Regions from separate parts of the Homo sapiens genome. Here region 2 is linked to region 1. Evidence: fine-mapped expression QTL. A gene starts in region 1. The other region holds a variant in brackets. All regions are shown on one strand. Distances are from middle to middle.

Region 1 (5,395 bases):
AAGTCTCAGGAATGAAGTTGATAGCTTTCTTTCCATCACATGCTGAAAGAAAGAATGGTTGTTGAATGAGCCAATCCATAAAGAAGCATTCATTTACTTCAACACATATTGAGTACCTACTATGTGGATGGCCCAGAGGTGACAGCAACTTGTTGAAAGCTTTTTAAACCCTCATTTCTTTAACCTTTTTTCCATAACTATCTTAATCTACTACTACAGGTTAACCCCTTTAACTTCTATTTTCCAGCAGAATTATACTATACGGGTCTTGGTCTGACATATTTTCAATGGTGTTGAAATACAAAGCAGTGATTCTATACCCAGATGAACAATAGCTGTGAAATGGATCCTAGAAGAATGGTAAAATCAGAGGAGAATGGAAGGTCATGGGTTTCCCATTTGGCTGAATTAAAATTCAGACTAGGTTGCTTCCCTTCCCCTTTGTTGGAGACATTTATAGCTAGGGGTTTAAGACTGAGATCCAGGCTTCCTTAAAGAAAGTTTTATTTTGAATTTCAACAAAAAGCAAAGTGTATGATGGAGAGTCTGACCAACTGGATATATATTTCCACTTAAAGAAGCTCTTGTATTGATTTAAAGAAGCTCTCGAACGCTTGTTTTATTGCTTTTCAATTGGTCTCAGGTTTTCAATAAAGAAAATAGGAGGCCGGGTGTGGTGGCTCACGCCTGTAATCCCAGCACTTTGGGAGGCCGAGGCGGGTGGATCACGAGTTCAGGAGATTGAGACCATCCTGGTCAACACGGTGAAACCCCTTCTCTACTAAAATACAAAAATTTAGCTGGGCATGGTGGCGCGTGCCTGTAGTCCCAGCTACTCGGGAGGCTGAGGGAAAATTCGTGGTTTTGAGAATTGGTAAAGACTCTATCATTTCCTATCTGAACATTTAAAAAGAAATCATGGTAACATCAAGTGTTAGGGACACAACCATCACTTGTATCTATATGAAGATCAGGTAATCTGTGCTCTGGTTTAGGTCTCTCCATCATCATTTACCTCAAAACCAGCAATATCACATATTAATTACCGTAGATAGGCTCACCGTGATCTCTTGACACACCCTGGAAAACACATTGTGGGAAATGGGTTTGGTACTAGTCTAATTCTACTTGTACAGCTACAAATTCCCTTGGTTTCTTGAATCTTTTGGGGCCCACAAAAGCTAGATAAGGGCAGAACTACAAAGTCAAACTATAGGAAGAGGCACCGTCTACTCTTTGACAGATACCTCCAAAAATCCCATGGCCAATAATGTGGTGATGAGCAATATGATAAAATAGCAAGATACCTGCATATATGTCTATCAGTACAAGTGTTAAATACACATTATCTCAAAAGAAAAATACATTAAAAACTCATGGTTCCTGTTAGTAGTAGGGATAATTTAATTTTTAAACTGCATACATGCCATAAACAAGGTTTATGTAACGGCCTTGAAAACACCATTCATTACTTACATGACTGAAAAGACGAAGGCATCTAATGAGTTAGAGTCACACCATCTCATGCCTGTATACTATCAAACAACTTTTGGGAAGCCTGAAAAAGACAAACACAGTAACACTGTGTTAGAGGGACCATACTTGCTTACCTAAAAATCTGAAGAACAGGTGGTCTGTAGTGTGGTAAGACCCAATTTATCACTGACCTGGTTACTACCAAGAACACATAAATGACCACTGTTAGGTTCACTATGATTTCATGACTATGGGTACCTGAAGAAACACATTCAATGATGAATGTGTTTAATGAAACACGCTGTTTTACCTGCAAAAAAGGACGGGGCACCTGCAACTTGTATCAGTCATTTTCCTCATTAGAGGAACCACCAACACTACCTCGATCTTAGTAGAACTTTGAGATCAACACTAATGTTAGAGATACCATCATCGCTTGACTTAGAAATCTCATTGTTCATACTATAATGTGGAAGAGTAGGATAACTCACCTGGATACCGGCATAGCCCTCCTTAGAGACTAATGTTAAACACACATTATATCTCTTTTATTTTTTTAAGAGACAGGGTTTTGTCCTGTTACCCAAGTTGGAGTGCAGTGGTGTGATCACAGCTCACTTCAGCCTCAACCTCCTGGGCTCAAGTGATCCTCCCGCCTCAGCCTCCAGAGTAGCTCATACTATAGGCACATGCAACTATGCCCAGCTTGGTTAGATACTACACATTATATCTAAACTGTAAAATAATAAGGGCTAATGCTTACTAGCCTTGGTTGGGAAAACATCATTTCTTAACTGAATGCCTGCAAAAAAACCATGGTAACACAAAAGTTAGAAGCACCATCCACACTTAATTATAGATCTGATGATCAGATTGTTTTCTGAGTGCTTGCTTAAGGCCCACGTCATTACTTACCTGGATGCAAGCAAAGTCTCATTCTTGATCATGATGAGGTTTACCATGTCTTCTTGACAGGATCCTAAAAACACATTATGACAAATGTGTGTAGACACAGCTTTTTTCCTTGAACCCCACAATTAAGCTTATTCACTACCATCATTCCAAGAACCATCAAGTATACCTGGAATCTTGCAGTACTGCAAGGTCTATAGCACTGTTACAGATACCATTTTCTCTCTACTACTTACCTGCAAACAAACCCACAATTGCTACTATGACATGCAACTCCATGGTTAATTCCTTGGATAGCAAATAGCTCGCCAATCACAAAGTTAAACATAAATTTTCTCTAAAATATAAAACAGCAGGATAACATGGTTGCTGTAGTTAGTAAAGACTATCATTTCTTACTTGAGTACCTATGGAAAAAAATCACACAGTAAAAAAGTTTAGGTAAATGTATAACACTTACTTAGATATATGAAGATCTGGCCGGGCGTGGTGGTGCACGCCTGTAATTCCAGCACTTTGGGAGGCCAAGGTGGGTGGACTGCTTGAAGCCAGGAGTTCGAGACCAGCTTGGCCAACGTGCCAAAACCCCATCTCTCAAAATACAAAAATCAGCAGGATGTGGTGGTGCACACCTGTAATCCCAGCTATTCAGGATGCAGAGGCACGAGAATCGCTTGAACCTGGGAGGTGGAGGCTGCAGTGAGCCGAGATCACCCCACTGCACTCCAGCCTGGGTGACAAAGCGAGACTCTGTCAAAAAAAAAAAAAAAAAAGATATAAGAAGATCTGATGGTCTATGATGTGGTTAAAGAACACATCATCACTTGCCTGCATACCAGAAATGTCTGCCATACCAACCATTGTTAGGTTTATCAGGGTCTCACTACAGAAACCTGAAATACACATTGTGAAATATGTGTTAAAGGACACAAACATTTCCACCAAGACATCTGAAAATAACCTTCGTCACTCCATCATTACAGAACACATAAACTCTACCTGGATACTTGTAATAATGCAAGATCAATACCACTGTCAGGTAAGACGGTCATTTCTTGACAGGACACCTGTAAAAATCCCCTGGTTACTGCTGTGGTAAGAAACACCAATAACCAGGATAGGCACTATCACTCAAAACTCAGAGGTTAATCATAAAGTTATTCTAAAATATAAAAAGTGAGAAAAATAATGTTTTTTTAAATTGGTAAGAGCTCTATCATTTCTTACTTGAACAGCTACAACAAAATCATAGTAACAGAAGTGTTAGGGACACCACCACTTACCTATATAAGGGAAGATCAGATGGGCTGGGCTGTGTTTTAGGCCCACATTATCATGCACATCCATACGAGCAATGACCCCTGTTAACTATTACTGATAGGCTCACTGTGACCTCTTCAAATGAACCTAAAAAATATACTGTTGAAAATGTGTTTCCTAAATGTCTCATTCTACCTGTACACCTGCAAATTCCCTTCGTCTCTTTCATCATTTCAGGGCCTATCAAAGGTAACTGGATGCTTGCATAATGCCAAGGGAAAACACTCGTAAGAGAAACTTTCCTCTCTTGAAGTGATACCTACAAAAATCTCAGCATTACAGTGATGGACAATATGATAAATTACCTGGATACTCGCATATCCATATATCACTACAATTGATAAATACACATTATGTCTAAACAAGAACACAGTAAAATCTCACTCTTACTAGTAATGTTAGGGAAAAAGTAATTTCTTAACTGCATGCATGACAAACACAAGGTTACAAGAAGAGTCTCAAAAAAATCATTAATCACCTACATATCTGAAAATAGGAAGGTTGCTAATGTGTTAATATCACATAATCTTCTACCTGTATACTAGGAAAGAACTTAACAGGATACCTGCAGGAATACATGGTAGACAAGTGTTAAGGACACCATCCTCACTTACATGGAAATATAAAGATCTAATGGTCTGATTGTGGGAAACACACTTTCTCAATTAGCAGGTTACAGCACGGTTCCATTAATGACTATTGTTAAGCTTGATTGTGAGCTCATTACAGAAAACTAAAAAACACATTGCTCAAGTGTGTTTAAGGAAACAATTTGTTTTACATAAAAAAAGACAAGACACAAATAATTCTGGGCACTTCCATCAGCAGGGAACCTTCAACACTACTTGGATTTGCCATGACTTCAATGTCAACAATGTAGTGGCACCATCATCTCTTGATGATGTTGAAGTCTCATGGTCAATAACGTGGTGGGAAACAGTAGGAAAACTTACCTGGATACCTGCATATCCCTCCCTCACTATAAGACTAAACACATTATAACTAAACTCTAAAATAATGACTGATGCTTACCTGCGTTGGTTGGGAAAATATAATTCCTTAACTAAATACCTGCACAAAATATGGCAACACAAAAATTAGGAAAACCATCTACAGTTACCTACATTTCTGTAGATCACATTTTTGTAGGGTGTTTAAGGCCCACATCATAATTGGCTTGGATACCAGCAATGTCCCATTGTTGATCATGATGAGGTTTCCCATGACCCCTTGAGAGGAACCTGAAACCACATTATGACAAATGTGTCTGTGGACACAACTCTTCCACCAGAACCCTGCAAATAACTTGTTGGCTGTCATCATTGCAGAAGACATAAATCTACATGGAATTTTGCAGTATTCCCAAGGTCTACAACCTTGAAGGACACACCATTTTTTCTTGACTACCTATCTGCAAGGATACCACAGTTACTACTATGAAGCACACCACGTTGTTATCTGTGTACACGCAAATCATTTGATACTCACAGCGTAAACCATAAGTTTTCTCTAAATTAAAAACAATATAACATGGTCACTAGAACTAGAAATACTGTCATTACTTACAAAAATCACTGTTATAAAAGCACATGATAAACAGTTCACGTAAACAGACATCACTTACCTAGATATATGAAGATCAAATGGTCTGTGATGGGGTTAAAGTGAACATCATTACTTACCACAG
Region 2 (5,395 bases), 33 kb before region 1:
TCCCTCCTCTAGTTTTTAAGAATAGCATTCTGAAGTTCACAGAGATAGAGAGTTACTCATATGTAGACTTAGTAACACGTCAAGGCATAGAAACAAGTCTGTCAAATTTTGGAGAGTACTTTTTCAGGACTCCACTCTGTTACAGTTATATACTTGTGTTAGTTAAATAGTTATCATTTCTAGGATGCATTTGGGACAAACCAACATGAGCAGTTCTTATACATCCAATGAAACACTGTTGATAACCAAAGCCAACGGGATCAATTGCAAAACTCATACCACCATGAAGACATCATGTGATGCTGACCAATGAGAAAGTTGTGATTGGAACTGATCTCGAAACCACTATACTTGAAGACAGACTCAGGTCAACATTTTAGCATGCTCTGTATTATATTACTGCAGCACAAAGCTCTGCATGAAGGTCTTAATTTTCTATAGAAACTTCCTTTATGAGTACTACTCTATGCTTGTAATACATGGTTTGTGTGTACATAGACATTTACCTCACACACAGGATAGAGGGTAGAAGAGATAATGCACTGCAGATGGATGTTGGGAGTCAAGTAAATTGCCACCAATTAATTTATTTCTGATAAAGTGATTCTTTATGCCTTATCTATTAAAAACAAAGCAAAACAAAACAAAAACACCTCTCTGTGCCATTTCCCCCTAAGGAATAGAAAGTATTAATCTATGTATCTGAATAGCAACCACAGATCATTATTTAAGCATAAATTCCCTGCTGTAATTTGTGGTTTTGACCATTTTATACACAATGGAATTAATTTAATATTGGATAAAAGATACAGAGTAGTAAAAGGGATTGGAACCAAATAATTGCTGTTTTTAAAAAATTATGCAAGAGTTTTCTAGAGCCTTTGTTTTATAGTTTTTCAAAGCCAGCTATATTTGTGCCTGTTGGAAGAAGCTGACTCCTGCTGTGTGCAGCTTGGGTTGCAGAGGCAGCATATTCTGCTAGTATATTTTAGCTGTTTTTATGCTGAGATGAATAGGCTATTTGAAGTGAAAGGCGGACTGGTAGTTCCTATTGGAATGAAAGGATCATAAATCCATTCATGCCAAACTGAACACAGTTAGACAATGCACTGAAGGCAATTTTTATCTGGTAATTACTGTCTTTGTTCAGAAGCTTTGCCAATGCTAACTGATTGAAAAGATCCCAGAACAAATAGTGAAAGGACACAGCTCCTTCATTAGCCTAAACTGCATTTGAATCAAGCCTGCCTTTGATGACATTTTGTTTTTCTTTTTAAACAAAGAGTTAATGTGCTTTTTAATTTGTGTATTTAAATTCTAGGGAGATGGCAAAGGATCATTATCTCCCATCTTCCTAACCTTGCCTAGAGTAGGCCTTCTAAATGAGACCAACAGACTTTCCTATTTGAGAGCTTTGCATTTATGGCTGCTACCTGAAAGGGCAAGGGTCAGCAAGCGAGCCAGATGGCTGGAAATGCTCCTGAAGACTGGAGAGATGAATGAGCATATTAAAGACTCTCTATTGGATGGAGAGCAACTAACACCCAGATTAGCAAATTTCCTTTCTTTGGGGGTCATCTTGACTCTCTATTATCGTGGACATTGGCCCTTGCAATCAATTATCTTGGTCCTTCAGGATGCTAATGCTGACCTAACCTCTTTATGCTGAAAGAGTGAAAGAAATAAAGAAGAAAATAAGGGGGAAGGGGGGAAAGGGAGAAGGAAGGAAGGAAGGAAGGCAGGAAGGAAGGGAGGAAGGGAGGGAGGGAGAGAGGGAAGGAAGGAAAGAAACCGAGAATTACTCTGGTCACCCAAGACTTCCATGCAAAATTATAGGTAAAATAAAACCTTTTCTGTCTTGTTTGAAGATCCATTTTTCAATTCAAATAACATTTGTGAAATACTCTGTGTGTGCCCAAAGTTACTTCTAGGCTGTCTTTCTAATCTTGCCAATGATTTAATTGAGGCATGTGCTGCTTATGATGTGTTTCTGGTTGGCCTGGAAATATTGAAAGATGAAGATCGTAAACGAAAAGACATTCAGTGCAATACTGTTAATTGATACCTACTTGACGGCAGTCATTGGAGGTAGAAGATGAATAAGTCACAGCTCCTCCATTAAAGAGGCTGTTAAGTAAACAATATTGGTGCATGCTAATGGTCCAAATACTTATCTAGATACTCACAGAAGAGACAGGGAAGCAAAAGTCAACATAACATTTTAAAAATATGCTAAGGAATTAACCACTTAATAAAGTTTGTCCTCAATCAATATTGTGTGAGCATCTATGCTAGTCAATATTTAAACATGAAGACCTTAAATGAAAAGCCGTTAAATTCAGCTAATACTAATCAGTATCTACTTTATGGCAATCATTGGTGGTAGAAGATAAATAAGTCACAGCTTCTCCATTAAAGAGTTCATAGTCTAACAAAGGAGCTT[T/C]GTAAGTAACTGTGCCATTGAATGTGGCTGCTGTAAAATCTAATGATGCAATGAAAACAGTTGTTAAACTGAAATCACAAATGTTGCTAACATGAAGGAGTTCACAAAGCTGATGATGTTGGAGAATGGCTCAAATCATTGGCAAAGCCAAAATAAGAATCTGGTAAGGTTAATTTGGGAAAAAAAGAAACTTAACAAAGATGATGTCAGAAGATGGGAGTCAGAAAACAATTTGAATATCAAAGGCTTCGGAGAGGTCTGTGGGGAAACTGGTGAAACCTCAAACGTTTTTGTAAAGATGACCTTACTTATGACTGTGCGCGAAAGTCAACTGTGAAGACAGGGTGCACAAAACTATCATACGGTTTTGCCAGAACAACTGTGTCAAAAGAAAAATCAACACTTACGTCATTGTTGTTCATTTTAAGAGTTAGGATATGGCAATTATATCCTGAATTTTTCGCAAATAAGAAAATATAAATGTATTTTCCTACTTTTTAAAACAAATTGGTTTTCTTTTTAGAATAAAATCCTAATCTTTTTTTCCAGTACTTACTGTGACATTTGGTTTCTATTTTGGGTGGATTAATTTTTTTTATATTGCTCACCCATACCTCTAATTCAAGTACCAAAAATGTTAGCCTCTTCTTCACTTTAATTTTTCTTTCTAACTCCAGAAACTTTTTTCTTTGTACTCTTGAGTCTCCTTAAGTGTGCTTATGGTTGTTGCATTCATGTTGTCATATGCCTCTTTTGCTCTTGAGTATTCTGTCCTAACTGATATTTCTCTTCCTAGTTGCTGGGTCCTATGTGATGTGGTACTGTTTTTCTTTGCCGACCCGCTGGGAATGTTACAGGTGGTTTAATTTTAAATGGACTCTTGCAGAGACAAATTACGCTTGGGCAATGAAGGCTTTCCATATTTATGACACAATATGATAAGCATGTACATAGATAAGCAATTACAAACAAATAGAAAAATAGTCGAAACTGAAGGATTGTTCTTTTGAAATGCACTCAATGCATGTACATTTCCTACAGTATTTTACGGCAGTGCTCTTTTGAGTTAGATGTTCTCAGAGTCCAACCCTACGGGAAGAAGAATGTGATGATGAATCAATGGCAATGTCTGGCTACTGATATCTGAATTGGAGAGATAAATACCAGCTCATGTTGTCAGTCCAGGATGCTGGGATACCGTAAAACAGCCCAGATTTGCTTGCTGCCTCTCTGACTTCTGATTTGATCTTTGTTCTCAGGCTGCCCAGCCACATGATTTACCTTGGTCCTAGATCACCTCCAAGTTCACCAGGCCATACAGGGTCTTGAGGAATGCAGGTACCTAAACCCCTCCTCTCTTTTTGGGAGAATTGCCAAGTCAGGGAATGAGTGGAGTGTTTGCTAATAATTCCGGAAAGGCTTCTCTAGGTGCAAGTATTTGCATTCATTCCAGTTACTTTCCTTCATTTTTTAAGGCCCTTGATTCTGAGTATTGGCAAGGGTGTTATGCAAAGCTGTTGCTTTGGTGATGTTGGTTTGGACAATCACTTAAGTGCTGGTGTTCTATTCCTCACAATAAATGGAAGTGTGAACATTGCGATCTTGGGCTCCAGTGACCAAGAGGAGAGCAGACGCTCCTCTCCACAGGTTCCTATCAGAGATACTTAGAGCTTAGAGTTGGGGAAACTGACCCAGCAATATCACGCTGCCATTTGTAAGCTTTCAGATTCCCATCTCATTCCTTTTTTATTTTCCTGCTGCTAACTCTTAGATGTGCTATTCCAACTATTATGATGCTGTCAATAATTGGTAGTTTTAAGGCGTATTCATCCTGTAGCCCAATATTTCCAGCTTCCATTGTGGCCAATCATAGTACAGAGTTTCACTGCAAAAAGACTAATCTGACATCTAAAAAAGTATGGAAAATGTATACAACTTTACAGAAATCTCTTAGACTAAGGGGATTATGATTCATATCACACAGCCACATTTCTAAAAATCACTAGAACCATTAACCTCTACAGTGCCACTCAACACAGGGTGACAGCTCTCTAGTCTCCCATCTCTAGAAACTTTCCCAAACTCTTCCCTGAAGCTCACTCCTCCCTGCCTCTCCTCTGACTTGTAGCTTTTTCTTTTCAGGATTGTTTCTTCCTAAGAGCAGTTCCCTGCTTTTCCTAACATAAACCAGCCTAGCCTTTCCTTTCTCCTGACTTCCCTATTGCTACCCCTCGTCTTGTTCAACAAAAACTTGAAAACAGCATGTGCCTTGTAAGGCGAGGGGAAAACAAGAAAGGCTATGAATGCTCATTTACCTTCGTGGTACCTGAATGTTTGTGTACTTTGAATATTTTGTCCCTGTGAGAGTCCCTTATGAGAATTCTGCCACTACCTTGAGCAAAAATCCTTGTAAACTATTTTTCATATGACACTGAAAGTCCTCCTGAAGCTTCCCTTTAAAACAGGCTCAGCAAACATTTTCTGTAAAGAAGCAGATAGTAAATATTTTTTGTTTTTCAGGTTATAAGATCTCCGTTGTAACTACTGAACTCTTCCGTGGTAGCATGAGCGCCACCATAGGCAGTATGTAACCAAATGGTGGCTGTGTTTCAATACAACTTTATTTGCAAAAACAGGCTGGTGACCCCTGCTCTAAAACAGTGCTTCTCATTCTTGGCTGGCCATCAGTATTACCTGGGGAGCTTTTTCAAATCCTGAGGCCTAGGCCATACCTCAGACCAATTAAATTAGGAACTCTGGGGTGGGACCAGGTCATGCATATTTTAAAGTTCCTCAGGTGAGTCCAATGTGCGGCCAAGGTTGACAATGCCTGTTCTAAAACTCAGGAAGCAGCCACCTGGAAACTGATGGGGATCCCAGCCTGGAGAGATACTGATTTCTCAATCCCTGGAGTGGCCAGGTGGGGCCTCCTGTAAGCAGCCCTACTATTCC

Alleles and levels. Positions count from the first base shown, and alleles are read on the strand shown. Sizes are in standard deviations (SD) of each study's normalised expression.
For the expression in spinal cord of the gene that starts at base 2,696 in region 1, C is the high allele of the variant in region 2 and T is the other (moderate effect, 0.70 SD a copy in GTEx).

What was found. PIP is the estimated chance that this variant, and not a neighbour inherited with it, causes the effect.
Region 2: its variant is the best candidate, but not a certain one, in a credible set for the expression of LINC01203 in spinal cord (GTEx, PIP 0.61).

Annotation. Positions count from the first base shown.
Region 1 is chrX:13,332,542-13,337,936 of GRCh38, reverse strand. It overlaps LINC01203 (long intergenic non-protein coding RNA 1203), which reads right to left and starts at 2,696. Exons shown (of 7, transcript NR_045260.1): 1 at 2,625-2,696; 2 at 2,392-2,455; 3 at 2,240-2,278; 4 at 1,477-1,558; 5 at 1-42.
Region 2 is chrX:13,365,503-13,370,897 of GRCh38, reverse strand. No RefSeq gene overlaps it. Among named protein-coding and RNA genes, the nearest start is that of LINC01203, 33 kb to the right of the region's middle. The variant T/C (reference allele first, on the strand shown) is at 2,444.